Linked DNA regions of Homo sapiens: region 2 is linked to region 1. Evidence: fine-mapped expression QTL. Tissue or cell type: whole blood. Region 1 holds a variant in brackets; the other region holds the start of a gene. All regions are shown on one strand. Distances are between the middles of the regions.

What was found. PIP is the estimated chance that this variant, and not a neighbour inherited with it, causes the effect.
Region 2: PRR22 starts here. The variant in region 1 is fine-mapped to the expression of PRR22 in whole blood (TOPMed, PIP 0.97).

The regions. Positions count from the first base shown.
Region 1 is chr19:5,633,614-5,641,448 of GRCh38, reverse strand. All of the region lies in intron 2 of SAFB (scaffold attachment factor B), which reads right to left. Among named protein-coding and RNA genes, the nearest start is that of SAFB, 14 kb to the right of the region's middle. The variant A/G (reference allele first, on the strand shown) is at 3,864.
Region 2 is chr19:5,780,106-5,786,925 of GRCh38, reverse strand. It overlaps PRR22 (proline rich 22), which reads left to right and starts at 2,180. Exons shown (of 3, transcript NM_001134316.2): 1 at 2,180-2,395; 2 at 2,487-2,549; 3 at 2,873-3,966. The coding sequence starts at 2,266. The coding sequence ends at 3,948. It overlaps DUS3L (dihydrouridine synthase 3 like), which reads left to right. Exons shown (of 13, transcript NM_020175.3): 9 at 81-177; 10 at 384-459; 11 at 1,135-1,323; 12 at 1,415-1,543; 13 at 1,651-1,786. The coding sequence ends at 1,723. RefSeq lists a silencer at 6,016-6,194.

The sequences.
Region 1 (7,835 bases):
CCATTCCGCACAAGACAGCCCTGCCCCACCCCCAAGCAGAAGAGGTTCTGTTCTTGTCTGAGCTGTGGAAGTAGAAGTGCAGAAAACAGGTTCTTAGTAAAGTTGAACAGGATCAGACCTGTCCTCAGCTCTGCCCTTCTTCCTATCCCAAGTGTCCTTGTTTGAGGGAAAAATTATTTGTTGCAAATGTGCTGCCTTTTAGTTAAGGAACATGTTTTCCCACAGAAACTGCGCATGCCCGAGTATGCACATTTTTAATGCTTAAAAAGAAAAAAGAAGGGCCGGATGCGATGGCTTACGCCTGTAATCCCAGCACTTTGGGAGGCCTAGGCGGGCGGATCACCTGAGGTCAGGAGTTCGAGACCAGCCTGGAAAACATGGTGAAACCCCGTCTCTACTAAAAATACAGGACAATCACTTGAACCCAGGAGGCGGAGGTTGCACTGAGCCGAGACTGCGCCACTGCACTCCAGCCTGGGCAACAAGAGCGAAACTCGGTTAAAAAAAAAAAAAAAAGAAAAACAAAAAACCCACATACTATCAAGATACTCCAGAGGGGCTGGGCACGGTGGCTCATGCCTGTTAAGTCCAGCACATTAGGAGGCCGAGACAGGTGGATCACTTGAGGTCAGGAGTTTGACACCAGCCTGGCCAACCTGACGAAACCCTGTCTCAACTAAAAATACAAAAAACTAGCTGGTTGTGGTGGCGGTTGCCAGTAATCTCAGCTACTCAGGAGGCGGAGGCAGGAAAATCGCTTGAACTCTGGAGGTTTAGGTTGCAGTGAGCTGAGATCGTGCCGCTGCACTCCAGCCTGGATGACAGAGCAAGACTCTGTCTCAAAAACAAAACAAAACAAAACAAAAATTGCAGAGGAAGGTTTTTTTTTAACTTATACATTTCCATCAACAGCGAATTAAAAAGTGCCAATCTCGTGCACTTGTAGTCCCAGCCACTCGGGAGGCTGAGGCAGGAGAATCGCTTGAATCCGGGAGGCAGAGGTTGCAGTTAGCCGAGATCACACCACTGCACTCCAGTCTGGCAACAGAGCGAGACTCCATCTCCAGAAAAAAAAAAAAAAAAAAAAAAAGCCAATCTTTCTTGAATCTCTGTTAAAAATTTGCTATTTTTCTTTATCTTTGCCAATATGCTAGGTAAGAAAAGGAATACTGTTTTAACACGAATTTATCTCCTGACTACTCAAATTGCTTTGAATCATTTGCTTTTTGTTGTTGATCACCTGTACTTTTCTAAAAATTTCTGATTTACACCCCACTATTTAAAAACTTCGGCTCCAGCCAGGCGCGGTGGCTCACGCCTGTAATCCCAGCACTTGGGAGGCCGAGGCAGGCGGATCACCTGAGGTCAGGATTTCGGGACTAGCCTGACTGACATGGAGAAACCCTGTCTCTACTAAAAAAAACCAAAAAAACAAAAAACAAAATTAGCCAGGTGTGGTGGGGCATGACTGTAATCCCAGCTACTTGGGAGGCTGAGGCAGGAGAATCGCTTGAACCCAGGGGGTGGAGGTTGCGGTGAGCCGAGATCCTGCCGTTGCACTCCAGCCTGGGCAACAAAAGCAAAACTCCATCTCAAAAACAAAACAAAACAAACAAACAAAACACTTCGGCTCCATCCCCCATCATTTGAAGTTTATATATCATATGTACAAAACATATTTTCCCAGTTCTTTACCAGTTTTTAAATTTTGTTTACAGGTTTTGAGTACACTTCACTGTTCTTTTTTTTTTTTTTTGGGACGGAGTCTTGCTCTGTCACCCAGGCTGGAGTGCAGTGGCCTGATCTCAGCTCACTGCAACCTCTGCCTCCTGGGTTCAAGTGATTCTCCTGCCTCAGCCGCCTGAGTAGCTGGGATTACAGGCGCCTGCCACTACACCCAGTTAATTTTTGTATTTTTAGTAGAGATGGGGTTTCACCATGTTGGCCAGGCTGGTCTCAAACTCCTGACCTCAGGTGATCCACCTGCCTCAGCCTCCCAAAGTGCTGGGATTACAGACATGAGCCACCGCGCCCTGGCCCATTTCACTCTTATGTGGCCAAGCTATTAATTGTTTTTAAAATGTAAGTGGTTTATACCTTCATGCTTGGATGTCCTCCTCCATACTGAAGGCTAAATAATATACACCTGTATTTAGTTCTTTTGAAGTTTTAAACATTTATTCTCTCAGTTTCATGTTGAGTGAGACTATTTTCCCAATAGTTGTCCCATTTGGAAACTGATTTCCCAGCACCACTGACTAAATAGTACTTGCCCCCGACCAATTTGAAATGTTGGCTTCCGCAATATTATATTTGTATTTATGTCTGGGATTACTTGTTTCCATTCTCTTCCACTGATCTGTTATTTTTGTTCCAGTTTTAGATATGTGGCATTACCATGTTTTTCTAAATAGAAAATACTTGCCAGGCGTGGTGGCTCATGCCTATAATCCCACCACTTTGGGAGGCCAAGGCGGGTGGATCATCTGAGGTCAAGAGAAGAGTTTGAGAACAGCCTGGCCAACATGGCAAAACCGCGTCTCTACTAAAAATACAAAAAAATTAGCCAGGCGTGGTGGCAGGCGCCTGTAATCCCAGCTTGGGGAGGATGAGGCAGGAGAATCGCTTGAACCCGGGAAGTGGAAATTGCAATGAGGCGAGAACACACTACTGCACTCCAGCCTGGGTGACAGAGCAAGACAGACTGTCTTTAAAAAAAAAAAAAAAAAAAAAAGACTAAGATTAAGTATAAAAAAAAAGAAACTAAAAAACGATTGGAAGGTATGGCTTAACTCCAGGTTTTTCTTCAAGAGTTTAGTAATTTTAGGCTGGGCGTGGTGGCTCACACCTGTAATCTCAGCACTTTGGGAGGTCGAGGTGGGTGGGTCACCTGAGGTCAGGAGTTTGAGACCAGCCTGGCCAACATGGTGAAACCCCAGCTCTACTAAAAATACAAAAATTAGAAGGACATGGTGGCAGGTGCCTGTAATCCCAGCTACTCGGTGGGGGGGTTGACGCAGGAGAATCGCTTGAACCCAGGAGGCAGAGGTTGCAGTGAGATGAGATTGAGCCACTGCACTCTGGTGTGGGTGACAGAGACAGACTCCATCTCAAAATAAATAAAATAAAAAGAGTTTAGTAATTTTAAAAAATGTGAAAAACATCAAGAGGCTGCATACCTTCTTAGGTTCATACTTCTCCTGTCAGCCAACAATGCTAAGAACAGGGAAGTCATTTCCCCAACTCCCCTTGTGCAACCTCCCAATTTTTCTTACTAATTGATGATTTATAACATTTGCAACAGTTCACAAGGGCAGGCATGCTGGCACCTTCATCCAAACAGCAGTATTTATATAGTCATTTGCTTTTTCATACAAATGATAAAATGAGTAGAGAATAGAAAAATGTAAACGATGATACCAGAAATAACAGAACTGAAGCAAAAATGGAAGTCATTAGGCATGGCAAAAATGAAATTTCTGGTGTCAGGAATAGGCATGCTCAAATTAAACTCTTTGACTGTCTTCCATGTGAAGAATAAAATCACATGCATGAAATCCATGAAATAGACTCTGGAAGACCACATCTCAAAGGCAAGGCATAATGTAGCATCATTTCATGTTTTAGAGCTACTGCCAGCACAGCTTCCTAGCATTCCTTATAGAAGGCGGTGCTCAGCTTTTTGAAGAACATGGGAGAAAAGCTGATCAAACACACAACTTTGGGAAAACTACTTCCTGCCAGGCCTCTTTCCCAGTGTGAAGAATAGTCTATTTTTTTTTGGAGACAGGGTCTGACCCCGTCACCAAGGCTGGAGTGCAGTGGCATGTCTTGGCTCACTGCAGCCTCTGCCTCCCAGCATC[A/G]AGGGATCCTCAAGGGATCCTCCCACCTCAGTCTCCCGAGTAGCTGGAACTACAGGCACGTGCCACCATGCTTGGCTAATTTTTGTATTTTATGTAGCAGTGGGGTCTCACTATGTTGCCCAGGCTGGTCTTGAACTCCTAGGCTCTCAAGTGAGTCTCCTGCTTGGGCCTCTCAAAGTGCTGGGATTACAGGCACGAGTCACCACATCCAGCCTGAAAATCAATTTTTTTTTTTTTTTTTTGAGATGGAGTCTGGCTCTGTAGCCCAGGCTGGAGAGCAGTGGCACGATCTTGGCTCACTGCAAGCTCCACCTCCCGGGTTCACGCCATTCTCCTGCCTCAGCCTCCCGAGTAGCTGGGACTACAGGCACCCGCCATCACGCCCGGCTTATTTTTTGTATTTTTAGTAGAGACGGGGTTTCACCGTGTTAGCCAGGATGGTCTCGATCTCCTGACCTCGTGATCCACCCGCCTCGGCCTCCCGAAGTGCTAGGATTACAGGCGTGAGCCACCACGCCCGGCCGAAAATCAATTGTTTTAAGGCTAAGTGTTGTTTCAAGCAGTATTAAGGAAACAAGGTCTGACACTGTGGCTCACACCTATAATCCCAGCACTTTGGGAGGCCGAGGTGGGTGGATCACTTGAGGTCAGGAGTTTGAGACCAGCCTGGTCAACACGGTGAGACCCTGTCTCTACTAAAAATATAAAAATTAGCCAGGTGTGGTGTCAGGCACCTGTAATCCCAGCTACTCGGGAGGCTGAGACAGGAAAATCACTTGAACCCAGGAGGTGGAGGTTGCGGTGAGCTGAGATTGTGCCACTGCACTCAGCCTGGGTGACAGAGTCAGACCCTGTCTCAAAGAAAAAAGAAAAGACAATTAATTTGTCTATACTGGAAACTATTCTTGTAACTGGATAAATATGTAACATCCTGGGGGGAGAAAAAAAGAAAAGCCAAAGACAAAAATTCCAAACCTAATTATTTGTACTGTAATTGACGTTTAAATATTCTAATTTCATTCATATTTTTAGAATTACCTTATTTACAAAGATAGGGGACTATCAAACTGATAACAGAATTCAATACATGATATTTTGGTCAGTTGGCTGGGAAATCCATCCCCATTTTATACCATTATTTCTTTGGCAAAACATGCCTCGAGGTCTAAAAAACAGCTGGAACTCAACCCAGTGGTCTCTGTAAACATGCTGGGAAGAGATACCAGAGCATTGCCACAGAATGATTACATTTGATAAAGTTGCTACAATTCTATGATACGTACGTTGGTTTCTGTCCAATCCTATTCCAGATAATAGGAAAAATCTACTAACTTATCAGAAACTTGCTGCCCTCCATACGGTGTTCTCTCTTCCTCAGGAGGGGTACTAGATTTTCATCAAACAGAATCAGGGTTTTCCACTTCTATGACCACTTTTCTCCCAAGCAGTATGTACAGGTACACTGCAGCCAAATCCTTCTCAGGGGAAAGCTCCCCCGAGGTAAAATGTGACTGGAAATGTCGAGAGAACATGCAATCTTCAAAATGTTTAATCTTCAACGTATAAAGCACATCCCTGACTGGAATGTTTATTAATCATCACGACTTGAGGAAAGACAGTATTCTCCAGAGAAGAAAAACGTCTAAAAAAACCAAAAATGAATGCAAATGGGAAAAGTATAACTCTCTGGCAAAAACTGAAGAGCCATTGATTTGTCTTTAGTATCAAGGCCAATGTGCCCCTTGAATCCTTCTACCTCAGCTCTTCACCCTAGTTTGTGGTCTCAGCTATGGGCATGACCGTCATCGCCTCTATCGCCTGCTCGTAGCTCCCTGCCTGGGATTCCATCTCTTGCCTTCTGTTAAGCTTCTGCCTCAGAGACTGTCCAATCTCACTGCTGACTCTGCTGCCCTGGACTTCTGCTGGGATGCTCCCATAGTACCCAGGGCTGCATGTGGGTGGTTCATTACTTTCTGATTTGATTACACAAACACACTTCCCTAATTATGCAAATATACGTATTAAACTTTACTGCAGTAACAGAAGATTCATCCTCCTAAGTATAGGAAGTATAAAGCTATAATACCTTCCCTTTTCCCTACTGTCCTCTTAAGAGGTTACCAACGTTCCCAGCTTGGTGGTGCCTCAGGACATCATCTTGCATCTACATACATTATATGATACATATGGAAATAAGCTTGTGATGAGATGAAATCTTATTGTTAGTGAGCAATGACACAAGTTACAGAAACTACTAACAGGCCTTGGACATTTTTATGTACTGCGTATTGATCCACCTCCATCTTTGACTCCATGCTACGGCAGTTCCCCACGTTAGCTGCCTTCTCAAAAAGGCTGTAGCAATTTATTGTCTCCAACACCTACACCTTCCCCAATACCCTTGCCAATGTAGGAGAACAGGAACTGTGTAAAAAAAATTTTTTTTTGAGATGGAGTTTCGCTCTTGTTGCCCAGGCTGGAGTGCAATGGCGTGATCTCGGCTCACCGGAACCTCCGCCTCCTGGGTTCAAGTGATTCTCCTGCCTCAGCCTCCCGAGTAGCTGGGATTACCGGCACGTGCCACCACACCCGGTTAATTTTGTATTTTTTTGTAGAGACAAGGTTTCTCCATGTTGGCCAGGCTGGTCTCAAACTCTTTACCTAGAGTGACCCGCCCACCTCAGCCTCCCAAAGTGCTAGGATTACAGGTTTGAGTCACCGCACCTTGCGGAACTGTGTAAATTTTTACCAGTTTGATAGGCAAAAATCTTATGTCATTTCAAAATTTGCTATTCTGCAACTACCAGCAAGGGAATCTTTTGGTCTCTAGGCCACATCTGCTTTTTCATTTATTTGTAAATTGCCTGTTCATAGTCTCTGCTCCTTGTTGACTGGGTTGCCTGTTTTCCTTACTGATTTGTCAGAACATTCAATGCTTTCTGGATATGAGTTTCTTCCTTATTCTGTGCTATAATATTTTCTCCCAGACTGTTGCATACCTTTCTTAACAGAGAGTTAAAACTTTTATGTAGCCAAATTTCTCTTTCTTTGTTGTTTCTCAGTTTTATTCTTACTTCAGGTCTTTCTTATTACTATATTATAAAAAGTATTAAACTAGCTGGAATTTCTATTTTACACAAGAAGAGATAAGATTAGAGCTTTCCCCCACCATCAAATGAACAAACCCTCAAACTTTCTGTTGTTTGCAATATCCTATCATCAAAATTAGAGGAAATCCCTGTATTCCCCCCCGCCCAGAATTTTAGTTATTCTTGTGCATTTTCTTTTTAGACTATTATGGAACACATTATAAAATTTCCTTTTAGGTTACTGTGGAGAAAAGTGACAATTTTCTGATAAAAAGTCATCATATCTAGGAAAATTTTCTCTGCTAAAAAGTCATCACATCTAGGAAATTTTTCTCTAATTAGTGATTTCGCAGGACTTGAAAATTTCCTGTTAATTCTATTTACTATTTAAGAATGTTATGTACATTTCAATGTCAATCTGGCAACATGCTTAATTCTTTGATTCACTAATGATATAACTGTCACCTAAAAAATCCTGGAGAAGTGATTAACAATTTTAACCAGCTAGCAAGTTTGCCAAACTGTTCATGAGGGCTTTGTCACCTTTCTTAAGCTGTCTTTGGCTTGCTTCGGATTGCTTTAACAGTACTTAATTTCCTGAGGTACAATCAGCCCAGTAGCTCTCACAAACCAAGTACTGGCCCAGGAGTTGACATCCTAGTTACAGAAGTACATCTAAGTTCCAAGACCCTGGTTTCTTTTTTCTTTTTTTTTTTTTGAGACGGAGTCTCGCTCTGTCGCCCAGGCTGGAGTGCAGTGGCGCAATCTCGGCTCACTGCAAGCTCCACCTCCCGGGTTCACGCCATTCTCCTGCCTCAGCCTCCCGAGTAGCTGGGACTACAGGCGCCCGCCACCACGCCTGCCTAATTTTTTGTATTTTTAG
Region 2 (6,820 bases), 150 kb before region 1:
TCTCAGCCTGGCTCTCTTGGTCTCTTCCTCTCTGCGTCTCACTCTCTGCCTCCTACCCTGCGTGGCGGCTTCTCCCCCAGCTCCACGGCCGCTCTCGGGAGCAGCGCTACACCAAGCTAGCCGACTGGCAGTACATCGAGGAGTGCGTGCAGGCCGCCAGCCCCATGCCCCTGTTCGGTGGGTGTTCCGGGAAGCCACCTCCCTCTCCCCTACCACCCTTGGTCACTCACACCTCTGGGCTGTTCGCCTTCCCACTTGGGACCCCCTCGTACCACCCTGATGGGAGCCACTGGGTCAGCCAAAACTCCTGAAGGGCTGGTGAGCAGAACTCCAGGGTCCCACCTGCCCATGTCTCCCTGAGACCCCAGCCTCTGTCTCCTCAGGAAATGGGGACATCTTGTCATTTGAGGATGCCAACCGCGCCATGCAGACTGGTGTCACCGGGATCATGATTGCCCGGTAAGTGCCCAGGGATGTTAGAGATCCAGCTTCATGCACAGCAGCAGTGCCCTGAACCCAACACGCCGTCACCCACCCCTGTTCTGTGGTGGGCTGTTGGTCCCAAGATGGGAGGAGCAGAGAGCGATGTCAGGAGTTGCAGCTGCGTTGCGGCAGAGGGGACTGGAAATTGCTGCTGCTGTGGGATCTGATGATTGTGGGTTGAAAGTCCTGGGCTTTGGCCAGGTGTGTGGCTCACGCCTGTAATCCCAGCACTTTGGGAGGCCAAGGCACGCCGATCATTTGAGGTCGGAGGTTCAAGACTAGCCTGACCAACATGGTGAAACATCTCTATTAAAAATACAAAAATTAGCCAGGTGTAGTGGTACACGCCTGTAATCCCAACTACTAGGGAGGCTGAGGCAGGACAATTGCCTGAACCTGGGAGACGGAGGTTGAACAGTGAGCCGAGATCTTACCACTGCACCCCAGCCTGGGCGACAGAGCCAGACTCCGTCTCAGAAAAAACAAAAGAAAGTCCTGTGCTTTGAAGGTTGTGTGCATGCAGCTGGGAGGCTTACTAGGCTTGTAGGTTTTGTGGTCTGGGCTCCGGCTCAGGCCAGGCCATGGAAGCAGAGGCCACACGATCCCAGGCAGGCTGGTGGCTGGGCCCACTGATCGTCACCCGTCCCACAGTGGCGCCCTGCTCAAGCCGTGGCTCTTCACGGAGATCAAGGAGCAGCGGCACTGGGACATCTCGTCGTCCGAGCGCCTGGACATCCTGCGGGACTTCACCAACTACGGCCTGGAGCACTGGGGCTCGGACACGCAGGGCGTGGAGAAGACCCGGCGCTTTCTGCTCGAGTGGCTGTCCTTCCTGTGCCGGTGGGCACCGGGGCTGGCTGGGGTGGGCGGCGCGTGGGCCGCGGCTGGTTAGAGCTGACTCAAGCCTGTCCTGCCCGCCCACCCGCCGCAGGTACGTGCCCGTGGGGCTGCTGGAGCGGCTCCCACAGAGGATCAACGAGCGGCCGCCCTACTACCTGGGCCGCGACTACCTGGAGACGCTGATGGCCAGCCAGAAGGCAGCCGACTGGATCCGCATCAGGTGCCTGGGTGGGCTGGAGTTGGGGAGCTGCAGTCGGGGGCCCGGGGTCACGGAGGGTACTTTGCAGGTCCTGGGCCTGACCTCGCTTTCCACCTGCTCTCCCACAGCGAGATGCTCCTTGGGCCAGTGCCCCCCAGCTTCGCCTTCTTGCCGAAGCACAAGGCCAACGCGTACAAGTAGCCTCAGGCTTTCCCAGGGGCACCCTGGGGCGAGGAGAGTACAATAAATTTTATTCTTTTAAAATCCAGGCCTTTCTGTGACCCTGAAGCAGCCCCTCCTCGGCCCCCACCTTCCCCAAACCTCTTAGCTGCCTCCATGGGCCCTGCCCCAAGCTGGGTGCTGCTGGTGCCCAGAGAGGCCTTGACCCCCAAGAAGGTAGCGGGTTGAGGACCCGGGGGGCCTCAGCCTGTGTGGGTGTGGATCAGGGCAGCCTGCCTGGAGGAGGCGGCCTCAAAGCTGTTAGGGGGGTGTTGCTGGAAGAGGCAAAGGCCTGGCCCAGAATCCTCCCTCCCATGGTGATGACCATGTCTGCCAACGTCTGCCCCTGCTTGCCCCCAACACCCAGAACCCCAACCAGTGGGCGCGCTGCAGGCTGGAACCCGCTGCCCCGAGTAACCAGGCAAACAGAACCCCACCAGGTTCTCAGCCTGTTCTCCGGTTGGGCCACTTGCACTCCCACTGCCGCCCTCCTGGCCTGTCTGGACCGGGCCCCCCGCTGCCCCATGCAGCACCCCAAACCGTTCTGTGCCCCTGCAGCTCCCCAGGAAGGTTTCAGCCCGCAGAGTCTGGAGGGGGCTGAGGTGCTGGGCAACCAGCCTGCTCCCACCTGTGCCGAGCCTCCTCCCGCTATGGGTACGATCGGGTGGGTGGGAGCACCTGCTGGAGAGGGTTCAGGGGCCCACCCGCCTAAGGGCCCTACCCACCTGGGCACCTTTGTCCACAGGCTCCTTGAACCTGTATCATCCCCCAGACCCAGAGAAAGAGGTGTTTCCAGCCCCACCAGCAGGTACCGGCCTCCCCTGAGCCCTTGACGAGGCTGGGAGTGGGTTTGAGTGTGCAGGCCCATCTTGCCCCTGCCCCGTCCCTAAGTGGGAGCCTGAAGGCATGGCCTCTGCTCCCCATGCTTCACACAGGTCCCCCAGATGAGCCCCAAAGACAAGCTCTGTGTCATCCATCACCCAGCCAGGGCCCCAAAGCAATATCTATGTCGTCCCCCAAAGGGGCCCCCCAATGGCAAGGTTCTTGTGGCATCTCCCAAACAGGCCCCCAGGCTTGGGCTGGGCCCCTCAGGCAGCAGCTGCTCTCAGGGCACCCGCCTGCCGCCCACAGGTTTCCAGATGGCCCCATGCGGGTGCTTCTTCGACCCCCGCATCTATCGGATCGAGTGGACCACCCCCGACCTGGGCCAGTCAGCCCTGTATAAGCTGGCAGCAAGCAGCGGGGGGCCAGCGGGGGTCCCCTCCGCCCCAGGCAGCTACCTCCTGGAGCCTCAGCCCTACCTCAAGGCCCCGGGGCTGCCTCCATACCCCCACTACCAGCAGGCACCCGGGGGGCCCCAGTTTCTCTTGCCCTACTTCCCGCCTGAGGGCCCCGGGCCAGAGGCTCTGGGTTTTGTGGGGGACGCAGGGCCCGCCGCCTTCGTGGAGCTGCCCCTACCGCCCCTAGAGGAAGGCCCGGCCCCGCTGCCACCCCCACCCCCCAAGGAGAACAAGCCGCCCCCTGTACTCATCACGCTGCCTGCAGAGCCCACACTGCCCCCAGACGCCTACAGCCACCTCCAGGGTCACCTCGGCCACTTCCCTGGGCCCGAACCCCTGGCCTTCCCCGTCAAGGAGCTGCAGGGCAGTGGGGCCCGACCTGGGGTGCCCCTGTACCCACCGGGCCTCAGCGAGCTCAAGGTGGCCGAGGTCAAGGAGGGGGCCCTGCTGGGAGCAGGCAAGGCCAAGGCCCCCAAGACGGCCAGAGCTTTGGCACTGCCTGACAAGGTTCTGCTGGAGGACGCCATGAAGCTCTTCGACTGCCTGCCAGGCGCCTCTGAGCCTGAGGGTACCCTGTGCGAGGTCCCTGGGCCGGCCCTGCCTGACAGCAGTGGTGGGAACTCAGCCGATGACATCCGCTCGCTGTGCCTGCCCGAGGAGCTGCTGTCCTTTGACTACAGCGTGCCTGAGATCCTGGACACCGTGTCCAACGTTGACTACTTCTTCAACTTCAAGGCGCTCGACGAGGAGCAGCCGCCCCACCCGGGGCCCCCTGCCACCAACACCCCGGCCCCCATTCTGTCTGGCAAGAGAAAGGCCTCGACGGCCAAGAAGGGAAAGCCGGGAAGGAAGGCCAGGCAGCCGGCAGGCCCAGCCAGCGCCACTCCCCCGGGGCCCAGGGAGGACCTGGGAGCCACCCCGCATTAAAGCACATTTGACCTTTCAGCTCCATGTCCACGTGGGGGCCTTGGGGATGGGGAGGGGGCTGGAGATGCACGCCTGGCCCCTCACCCCATCATCCCGCGGACTGGCAAGGCAGCGCCCCCGGCCTCACAGTGAGGCCTCTTAGCAGGGGAGCCCCGGAATCACAGGACACCCTAAACTCCTTGAGTCCCAGCCCTGGAACATCAGACTCCTCTGGCAGAGGCAGGGGCCTCCTGGGGCACGAGGGAGCTGACCCCCAGACTCAACGCGTTCTAAGGGTTTTCACCCCTTTGTTTGGTGGGGGAAAGCAAGGCTGCCCAGAGCAGCAGGAACTTCCTTGGAGACACACAGCCATCAGGGCAGGGCTTGAGGAGCATCCTCCAGATCCCCACCCAGCTGCCTCCTGTCCCCAGGAAGCCACAGCCACTGCAGGCAGGGCGGGAAGGGCCACGCTCTTGTTCAGACAGACAGGTGGGTGCAGGGGCTTCACCTGATGGTCTGAGGGTGGGGGCTGGGGCAGGGATGAGACAGTGCCCACGCGTGAAGGGGTGGGGAGCACACGGCACCCAGGGGGCCTGGCATGTGCACCCAAGATGGAGACAGGAGACAGCACCTGGAGCCCAGGAGAGGGTCAGGGGCCCCACCCGGCCACACTTCGGGGTCCGGGGTGGCAGGGACAGCCTGGCTACTCGTTCCAAAATGGGATGGGCCCAGCCTCGGAAGAACGACCTCCGGGTGCTGGTTCCCGTCACTGCTTACCCACATCAGGGTCTCGAGAGCCCTCCTGGGGGTCCAGGCAGTGGCCACCTGTACCCTCCTCCCCTGAAACGCTCATGGTGGCCCTGGAGAGGCTGACCCCATTCCCCCAGGGACACATAAGGAAACAGGAGGTCGAGTGCCATCCAGCGCCTCCTGGGATGAGGACACCCCTCTGGGATGGGAACCTTCAGCCTACCCCTTCCCCAGGCTGCGGGCTGGATCTCCTGGGTCTCCGGAGTTTGGGTTTCAAGGCCTCTGCTTGGGGAGGCCCTGGGAGGCTCACCTAGAGTCCAGGAGGCTGATGGGTGTTTGGAGGCCGAGCAGAGACCATGGTCCCGGCTCTGTGTAGGGCACTGTGCCTGCTGCTCTCTGGAGCTACTCTCCCGGAAACCCTTATTCAAAAAACTCAGGAGGAGGCCAGGTGCAGTGGCAAACACCTGTAATCTCAGCACTTTGGGAGGCCGAGGCGGGCAGATCACTTGAGGTCAGGAGTTCGAGACCAGCTTGGCCAAAATGGTGAAACCCTGTCTCTACTGAAAATACAAAAATTGGCCGGGCGCAGCTTCTCACGCCTGTAATCCCAGTACTTCGGGAGGCCAAGGCAGGCAGATCACGAGATCAGGAGATTGAGACCATCCTGGCAAACACGATGAAACCCCAGCTCTACTAAAAATACAAAAAAATTAGCTGGGTGTGGTGGCGGGTGCCTGTAGTCCCAGCTACTCGGGAGGCTGAGGCAGGAGAATGGCGTGAACCCAGGAGGCGGAGCTTGCAGTGAGCCAAGATTGCACCACTGCACTCCAGCCTGGGCGACAGAGTGAGACTCCGTCTCAAAAAAAAAAAGAAAATGCAAAAATTATCTGGGTATGGTGGCAGGCGCCTGTAATCCCAGCTACTCAGGAGACTAAGGCACAAGAATTGCTTGAGCCCGGGAGGCAGAGGTTGTAGTGAGCCGAGATCACATCACTGCACTCCACCCTGGGCAATAGAGCAAGACTCCATTTCAAAAAACAAAAACAACTCCGGGTAGTGTCTCGGGGCCATGCAGCTGTGGCCCTCAAGACAGGGTCCCCCTGTCCCAGGGACTGTGCCATGTGCCCTCCTGGCATCTGCAGTGATCCCCATTCATCACTGTTTGACCCGTGGGGACACAGGCTGGGAGAGACTCCAAGTGCACTTTTGTTTTTTTGAGGCAGAGTTTCGCTCTTGTTGCCCAAGCTGGAGTGCAATGGCGTGATCTCGGCTCACTGCAACCTCCGCCTCCCGAGTTCAAGTGACTCTCCTGCCTGCCTCAGCCTCCCGAGTAGCTGGGATTACAGGTGTGCACCACCACACCTGGTTAATTGTATTTTTAGTAGAGACGGGATTTCACCATGTTGGTCAGGCTGGTCTCGATCTCCTAACCTCAGGGGATCCGCCCGCCTCAGCCTACCAAAGTGCTGGGATGACAGGCGTGAGCCACCGCGCCCAGCCCCAAGCCCACTTTTCTCAGCTGCTTTTCAACTCCTTCTCCCCGAAGCCTCATTAGGGGTATCTCTGAAACTAAAACCAGGTATCCCAAGTGTCGGGGAGGTCCTGGCTGATGAGGAAGTGGGGCAAGGACCTGGATCACTTTTCTTGAAGATTAATGTGGAGTGAGGGTCACACAGTGGATGTCTGCAAGGACCCAAGCAGTAGCTTTTTTTTTTCTTTCTGAGACAGGGTCTCGCTACGTTGCCCAGGCTGGAGTATAGCGCCGTGATCATGGCTTACTGCAGCCTCGACCTCCTGGGCTCAAGCGATCCTCCCACCTCAGCCTCCCAAGTAGCTGGAACTACAGGCATGCACCACCACACTCAGCTAATGTCTAAAAAAATTTTTTTGTAGAGATGGGGGGTCTTGCTATGTTGTCCAGGCTGATCTTGAACTCCTGGCCTCAAGTGATCCCCCTGCCCCAGCCTGTTGTAGCTATGTGGGGCAATTTAAAATGATCACAGAATATATATATGTATTTTTTAATATATATATTTTTATATATGTATTTTAATATATATTTATATATGTATTTATATATATGTATTTTTAATATATATATGTATTTATACATATTTTTATATGTATTTTTAATATATATATT